3 separate regions of the Homo sapiens genome follow, and regions 1 and 3 are each linked to region 2. The links come from fine-mapping of genetic effects on plasma protein levels. A gene starts in region 2. Each other region holds a variant in brackets. All regions are shown on one strand. Distances are from middle to middle.

Region 1 (2,765 bases), 370 kb after region 2:
TACTAGGCTGGAAATTCTGCAAGGAACCTGCCAGAAGTTGCAGTCTTGAGTCCAAAGGTGGTCTGAAGGTAGAATTCCATCCTCTTCTGGGGACCTTAGTATCTCCTAAGGCTTTCAATTGATTGAATGAGGACCACCAACATTATGGAGGCTAAGATGCTTTACTCCAAGTCTACTGGTTTAAGTATTAATAACATCTAAAAAATACATTCACAGCAACGTGTAGACTGCTACTTGACCAAACCCACTGGGTACTACAGCTTAGCCAAGTTGCCATATAAAACTAATTATCACAGGTAGTATTTTAGGTGAGGAATGAGATGGCAAGCCTGTGCTCTCATGAAGCTAATGCCATAGAAGTTGGGTTAAGGGCATGTTAGATTGAGTATCCAGGAAAACCTTCTCTGGGGAAATCACATTTAGGCTGAATATGTGGAAAGATCTGAATTTTCCAAGTAGAGAGAATATCATGCTTCATGTGTCTAAGGAACAGAAGGGAAATCAGCGTGTGTGGCTCAGGGTGATGCAGATGATGCTGGAGGATTGTCTGGAATGAGACTGTAGCTTGGGCAAGTGTCAGGTCAAATAAGCCCGGGAAGAAGCTTGGATTTTATTCTATGTGCTTTGAGAAGTCATTGGTGGTTTCCACCTGGGATGGGGGTGGGGAGAATCTGTTTTCCTCTGTATTCACACTCAACACAGAACAATTCTGTGACCAGAAGTGTGGGAGTTTCTCCCACACCAAGCAACTGTCCAGTTCTCTTTGAACACCAACTGTATGTCGTATAATTCAACTGAATTACCACACTAACCTGAGTTACCACAGACCTCACATGTTAAGGGCTTAGTCCCACAAGATGCCCCCCACTTTAGATGCCACTCACAAGTAGTAGGTCCCCAGATTATGCACAACTTCCATATGACTTGGCTACACATTGGAGATTCTCATGAGTCCCTTCTTGGGTTTTATCATTTGCTAGAATGGCTCACAGGACTCAGAGAAACACTTTACCTGTGTTTACTCTTTTATTATAAAGGATGCAATTCATGAACAGCCAAAGGGAATAAATACACTGGGCAAGCAATGGAAGAAGGAATGTGGAGCTTGCAGGTCCTCTCTGGGCATGCCATCCTCCCAGCATTTTCATATGTTCAGCAACCTGGAAGCTCTCAGAACACCCTACTTTTGGGATTTATATTCAGGCTTCATCATGTAGACATGATCAATCAATCATTGAGTATTAATCCATCATCAACTGATTAACTCCATTCCCAGCCCCTCTCCTCTCTGGAGAATGGAAAGTCAACCTGAAAATTCCAAGCTTCTAATCATGGTTTGGTTTTTCTGGTGACCAGCCCCCATCCAAGAGGCCATCAGAAATTATCTCATTAGAAAAAAAGATGCTCCTATCACCCAGGAAACTCCAGAGGATTTAGGAGGAATGTGTTAGATGCTTGCTCCTATCACTCAGGAAATTACAAAGGTCTTAGACACTATGTGTCAGGAAATGGGGTCAAGGACCAAATATTAGACCTGAAAATTATCCCAGTCGCCGCTTTAGGAGCTCTGGTTCAAAGACTGGG[G/T]AGACTGTGTGTTTGTGTGTGTGTGTGTGTGTGTGTGTGTGTGTGTGTATGCATATGCATATTTCTTATTTCACACAAGCAAAGATTTATATAATTTGAATGCTTTATGAAGGGTAAATGTGAATATAAAGTTTGAGGGAAAACAAACATCTTATTTCAAATTGGCCAATTTTTGTGTGGTATACATGAGAGGGAGAATAAAAAAGAGAACAAAACCAGAAACATACCTGTAAAAAATAAAAACTTATTATTCATAGTGAATGAAAGTCTGTCATGTTTGTGTTATCTGGAAAATATAAATCTTCTTTGCAGAGAAATGCATACCATAAAGAAACTACAAACACATAACCACACTGAGAATAAAGCGTATACAACTTTTCTCACAAAAGGTCACCCTGCCACTAAATGAATGAATACTTCCTCAAATGAATTAGGAAAATGCCAAAAATCTGATAGAAAATTAGGCAAAGTGCATGAATAGATAATTTACAGAACATAACAGTGACTTTTAAACAAAGAAACAAAATTCTCACCCTCAATGTTAAAAATCAAATAAATACAAATCAAATAACTATTTTTTCACTTATATTTGCAAAGATCATTAAATTTGATAATTCATAGCATTGACCAGCAGGTAGAGAAAAAGGTATTTCAACATCCCAATAGAGGGGAAGCTATTCTTGCGTCTTTGAAGGGTAACTGGGCAACATGTATCAATATTGCAAATACACATGACCTTTGAATCATCTATTTCATCCATGTAAACAAAAGAGCATGAATTGCACATATTTTATGCTAGCACAAGGTAGAACAACCAAAATCTCCATTAATAAGGAAATAATTAAATGGTTATGGCAGACTAAAATGAAGAATATAATTTTGATTTTTATAAAGAAGGAGATAGCCTTACAGCTAGTGATATGAAAATGCTACAGAAGAAGAGGGTTAAAGGACATGTGTAGGAGGAAAAGTTGATTGATTATATTTCTATGTGCTTCCGTAATTTTTTTACCAAGTCCTTTTAGTTGTTTTCCGAAAAAGGAAAAAATTAAAAATATAATGATTCATAAAAATGTTATAATAGAATCATCATATATTTTTACAAAATACAGAAAGATATGATATCTTACTTCAGAACAATAGAAATGCCAGTGCATTTCAAATAAAATACAAGCACACAT
Region 2 (2,765 bases):
TCAAATTTGAGATGAAATTCCTTAAAGTGGTTAAAGCATTCATTGTCCCCTCTGCCTGATGCTTTTAACTAGTTTATTTTACAGAAGGAGTACTCTCTTCAAGTGGCTGTAGATTGAGACACTCTTACAGGCTTAGTTGTTGAGTCAACCACATTTAAAAAATGCACCTGCCCTTTGGTTTATGGTGCGTAATGCATTCCTCTCATAAACTGTAAATTGACAAAATTCCTTTGCCATTTTAAAATTGCTTAAAGTATTTATTTTTCTATATTCCTTGTAAGGAACTCCCCTGAGCACTCTTAACTTAATTGCTCTCTGAAAAATATTTTAAAGAAATTCCAGAAGTGGTAAAGCTCAGAGGAGCCCCACAAATACAAAGTGCTGAAGTAAAATATGATGCTAAATGGTGATAAGAGACTTAAAACTAGATTTCATTGTGATAAGAATGTGATAAAGTTTGATTGTAATTCTTATACCTCCTTTCAGAAAATCATGTTATAGAAAAATGTTCCTAAGCAGTAAAACAAAGCCATTTTAAAAAATAACTTCTCATGTGCACTCTTTAACAACCTAAGTGTTATGAAGTCTCTCAATTGAGATCTTTAACCGTAAATAGTTTTTGCCTTTTGTATTATGTCCAGATCCTATTTAATGCAATTAGAATACAAATTCCTATGTACTGAGGACCTTGATTACATAGATGAGATATTTCTTAGTTCCAGTTGGTGTTTCTCATCTCTTGTCTTCTCTGACCCTATTTATACATTCTCTGTTTTTATCAGATGATTCTTCCCCAGAACGGACTGGGAGAGCGAGGTCCGGGTTTCCTTCTATTTATTTGCATCGATGTCGCTCCGAGTCTTCAGCACTGGGCCGCGTATGACAGCATCTTAGTGGGTGCGGAGCGGGACAGCGCGCCGGGGGCGTGGCAGGGGCGTGGCCTGTCCGCGGGGCGGGGAGTGCGGGGCGGGGCTTCCGCGGAGCGCAGCGAGCGGGCACATCCCAGGTTAGCTGCTGCGAGCCGAGCCGGGCGGCGGAGGCGGCGGCGGCGGCGGCAGTGGCGGCAGTGGCGGCAGTGGCGGCAGCGGCAGCAGTTGCAGCAGTGGTGGCCAGAGCGGATGCTTGCGGGCTCCCTGCGGCTCCACTAGTTTTCTTCGCCCCGCCCAGCCGCCCACTCTTCTCGGCTAGGGAAGAAGACCAGAGGGTGCTCAGCTGGAAAACTCTGGTGTCTCAGCTTAGGGCCTCCTCCGGGAAGAGCTAACTGCTCCCAGGTGAAGCCGGTGCCCGCGGGCGGTCCGTACACCCCGCAGCCGGCTCGCACCGCTCGAGAGCCTCGGCCGCTGTGTCTTCCACGTCTGCAGCTCAGCCAGGGCGCGCAGGGCGAGTGGGGTCCACTGGCGGGTAAAGGGGACCAGGACGGCGAGGATGGACGCACAGACCTGGCCCGTGGGCTTTCGCTGCCTCCTCCTTCTGGCCCTGGTTGGGTCCGCCCGCAGCGAGGGCGTGCAGACCTGCGAAGAAGTTCGGAAACTTTTCCAGTGGCGGCTGCTGGGAGCTGTCAGGGGGCTGCCGGATTCGCCGCGGGCAGGTAAGGGGCAATGAGGGGGTCTCTGGACTGGCGGCGTCCGAGCCCGGCCTTCGCTCCCCCAGGCTCCCTTGGTGGCACTCGTGGGAAGATGACCTTTCGGGCCCTGCAGCCGCGCAGGGTGAATCCCGGGGAGGCTTCCGGGGATGCTTGGTGCGGGTAGCCTGAGTGCAGCGCAGCGCAGCTCTGGGGACCCCTAACCAAGCCTGCGACGAATCCCCGTTCTGGGCATCTGCTTCCCGCCCGGCTCCCTTCGTCTTGGAGGATGAGTTGGAAGGAACCAGGAAAGCAGACATCAGGGCGTGGGGGACACGCAGTCTAACTCCGTTTCTCTTCCGAGTAGGAATTTCCCCAGTGCCCCACCGGGGATTTCGGTTTACTGCTTTCTCATAAGGTGGAGGGAATTGAATTGATCGCCCCAAGTTTGGTACTAAAAATCACAAACCTGCGATATACCCCTTTGCTGGAGAATGGGGCACAGACAAGGGCAGCCGGTCTCCTCTGTAATTAGGACTTGGACCCTGTGCACCCAGAGACGTGACCCTTAGCTGCCCTTCTGTGCCCTCGTATCAAGCCCTGCTTGGAGGAAACCCAACCACCCAGTGTGTCTCCCAGCACCAAGGTAGTTTTTAGCCTGAAAAGTGTTAGGGCAACAGGCGATCAAACCGAACGTACTGGGGAGTCACTTGACATGGATGAGATGTACCAGCGTTCCAAAGGGAAAGATACAGTTTGTGTGGCCAGCGTGGATCTTGCTTCCTGTGAGCGCCTTTTGCCTGTGCTTTCGAACCCTGCTCCCCGTTTCCACCGCACCAATTTCCTTCTGCTGGTGGGAGTTCCAGTGTAGGTTCTGTCTGGAAGAATAGGTCATAGCTGTCAAACGCAATAGCAGGTGTCTAGAGCTAAGTAAGATCTCACTAGAGCCATGCACCCCTTTAGCTGTGACTATGAAGCCAACACAGACGAATCTGTGAGGTTACTGGTTGAACAAAGAACTTGTGGAGGACGCTTAAGTCTAAAGTCCCGAGTTTCCAGGGTTGGGGGACTTGCTTGTAGCAATGAGGAAGTGTGAGCTGTAGCCGCTTTTCTTGATTGCTTTGCTCAATTTTAAGTCATCCCAGAAAGAAAATCTAGGCATTCGGGAACACTGACTCCATTTGAGTTTACATGACCAGTCTTA
Region 3 (2,765 bases), 22 kb before region 2:
TGACCGCAGCAGAGGTCCTACTGAGAGTCAGCATCAACTAAATGTTAATAACTGAGCCTTCAGATGATGCCAGCCATCAGTTTTCAAGCTGTTTCAGCTAACTCCAACAGGAGCATGGATAACGTGTCCCCACCAAGCCCTGCCCAAATTGCACATTTATGAACAGAATGAATGTCATTGATTTAAGTCACTAGTTTTAGAGTAGCCTGTGACTCAACAATAGATAACCAGAACACAGGAGGGTTAAACTTACAATTTAGTCAACCTTTGCCACACATGACAAGTCACATGCTCATCAGAATAAGAAAAATGTGCTTCTCTAGAGATCCTGGACATACAGTTTTACAGAGTAGCTGGATTTGATTTTGTGTTGCTGGCCTCTGGGGAAGTGTAAGCACATTTTCAGTTATAAGTGGGATAATGGTATTTACTATATTAGGAAGAGGAAATGTGGGAATTGTTTGTGCGTGTCTAAAATGATGCTAAAACTGGATCTTTCCTGTCTCCGTTCTGACAGAGCCATCAGTGATCAATATCAGGATATCTTAATGAGAGCAGATGATCCCAACTTCATGTTCATGCATTCAACATGGAGTGCCTATTACATGACACTTGTTAGTCCATGTGCTGAGGATGGAGCAATAAACAAACCTGTTTAAGCTTTCTGCCCTCATGAAGCTGACATATGCAGAATTAGAAAGAAAAGGGCTCTACTGAGTAAAATTGGTTAAGTGATTTTACTGGACAGAGTTGTTATTATGTATATTGGCCAGAAGAGGCCAGGTAACAAATATGCACAGACGGTACAGAAGTGGGACATGTGTAGGATGTCATGGATCTTGTCTAATAAGAGCCAAGAAACCTCAGCAGAAAAAAACGAAGATAGCAGCCAGGTGCAGTGGTTTACACCTGGGATCCAGTGCGTTGGGAGGCCAAGGCAGGAGGATTGCTTGAGGCTAGGAGTTCAAGGCCTGCCTGGGCAACACAGCAAGTCCCTCTTTCTACAAAAAAAGAAAAAGAATGAAGATGAACACATATAGGCCTAAAGTTATTGAAACTGGCAGAAGACAATGTGAAATAGACATCTGCCTGAACAGGGCACTGTAGGAGACAGTCTGTCATGGACTCCCTGAAGAGAAAAAGGGTGAAGGCAGAGAGCTGAGGGACACACCCTCTTTCCTCCCACTTCTCCTCACCTTGGCTTCCCTATGGCATACCTCCGGAGAGAGAGGCTCCAAGCTTAGGATAAAAGAACTTTTGATGATAAATCAAGTTTGAAATTGTGTTTAATATTTTATACTGGACATTCCAATTTTTAAGTCAAAACTGTGTTTACCATTAACTGAAGAACTTTTTATTTTCTGAGTAACCACAAAAATCATGGGCCT[G/GC]CCCAAGTATTCTTTCAGGATAAGGGAAGAAAACCTAAACTGATTACATTTAAACCAGGGTACAAGATGCAACTTAATCTTCCCTGTGATCACAGTCCTTGTGTTGTGCTTGCTTTGGGAGGCCAAGGCGGGCGGATCAGTAGATCAGGAGATCGAGACCATCCTGGCTAACATGGTGAAACCCCATCTCTACTAAAAATACAAAAAAATTAGCTGGGCGTGGTGGCGGGCGCCTGTAGTCCCAGGTATTCGGGAGGCTGAGGCAGGAGAATGGCGTGAACCCGGGAGGTGGAGCTTGCAGTGAGCCGAGATTGCACCACTGCACTCCAGCCTGGGAGACAAAGCGAGACTCCGTCTCAAAAAAAAAAAAAGGGTGTGTTTTTCCTAGGTAGACTGTGGATACATCTGTACTTTTCCTACTTGATTTCTGGTAAGAGAACTCCATTTAAATGTGGGGAATGAGTGAGACAGACAGAGATCATCCCAATCATCTCTGGTCATGACAGTGGATATCTGACCAGTCTGAGTGAGAATGATGGGTAGTGGCATAAGCATTTGACACAAGAATTCATGAGACTCTGCTTCCACAACTGTTGGGGAAGTGTTAGGTCTTTCAGTTGAGGTTCCTGAGCTGTGAGTGGTCATGTTTTCCACAATGTGGAGATGGCAGAGGAGTTTACATGTAGAAAAAACCAGAGTCAAGCAGACCAATAGTGAGCCTCAACATGGACAAAACCAGGAGCAGACTGCACTATTAATATGTTTTCATCCTGTTGTAAGTTGGAAAAATAACAATAACTAAAATTAATTTAAATTTAAAATATGCAAATATTATAATTTGATTATGCTTAAGTACATACACATGACTGAATTCAACTAAACTATTTTAATAAAATTTAATGACTGTTTGTAGAATGACAATTTCAAATAAGGTACTTGGAAAGACAATATAATACTTTTTTTGTTATCGTTCCTATTAGTTTTTTTTTTTAAGAAAAGGGGTTAAATTGGCTCACGGTTTTGCAGGCTTTACAGAAATCATGGCACCAACATCTGCTCCACTTCTGGGGAGGCCTCAGGAAGCTTACATCACAGTGGAAGGCAAAGGGTGAGACTATTAGCAGAAAGTTTTGATATTTATATAAATATAAAAGGATGTTCAATTTGTTTGAGATATATGGCAAATCTCCTTGAGATACCAAAATGGTAAACAGGTACTCAATCATTTTGGAATGGTTGATAATTTTACTTAGCTAAATATAAAATTGTCAACTTTCAGAACAAATATTATTTTTGAATACGATCTATGCTTCTGGTTTGTGAATAGTAGTGTTCAATGAATAATTATACTCCCTATAGTAAATGCTTTTACTATTG

The links. PIP is the posterior inclusion probability: the model's chance that the variant is causal. Protein levels are from the aptamer-based SomaScan assay of Sun 2018.
Region 1: its variant is fine-mapped to the plasma level of the GPC5 protein (Sun 2018, PIP 0.95).
Region 3: its variant is fine-mapped to the plasma level of the GPC5 protein (Sun 2018, PIP 0.95).

What each region holds. Positions count from the first base shown.
Region 1 is chr13:91,769,108-91,771,872 of GRCh38, forward strand. The region is part of intron 5 of GPC5 (glypican 5); the gene reads left to right. Among named protein-coding and RNA genes, the nearest start is that of GPC5, 370 kb to the left of the region's middle. The variant G/T (reference allele first, on the strand shown) is at 1,585.
Region 2 is chr13:91,397,622-91,400,386 of GRCh38, forward strand. GPC5 (glypican 5) reads left to right here and starts at 1,000. Exons shown (of 8, transcript NM_004466.6): 1 at 1,000-1,588. The coding sequence starts at 1,426. RefSeq lists silencers at 814-1,108, 815-1,084.
Region 3 is chr13:91,375,711-91,378,475 of GRCh38, forward strand. No RefSeq gene overlaps it. Among named protein-coding and RNA genes, the nearest start is that of GPC5, 22 kb to the right of the region's middle. The variant G/GC (reference allele first, on the strand shown) is at 1,389.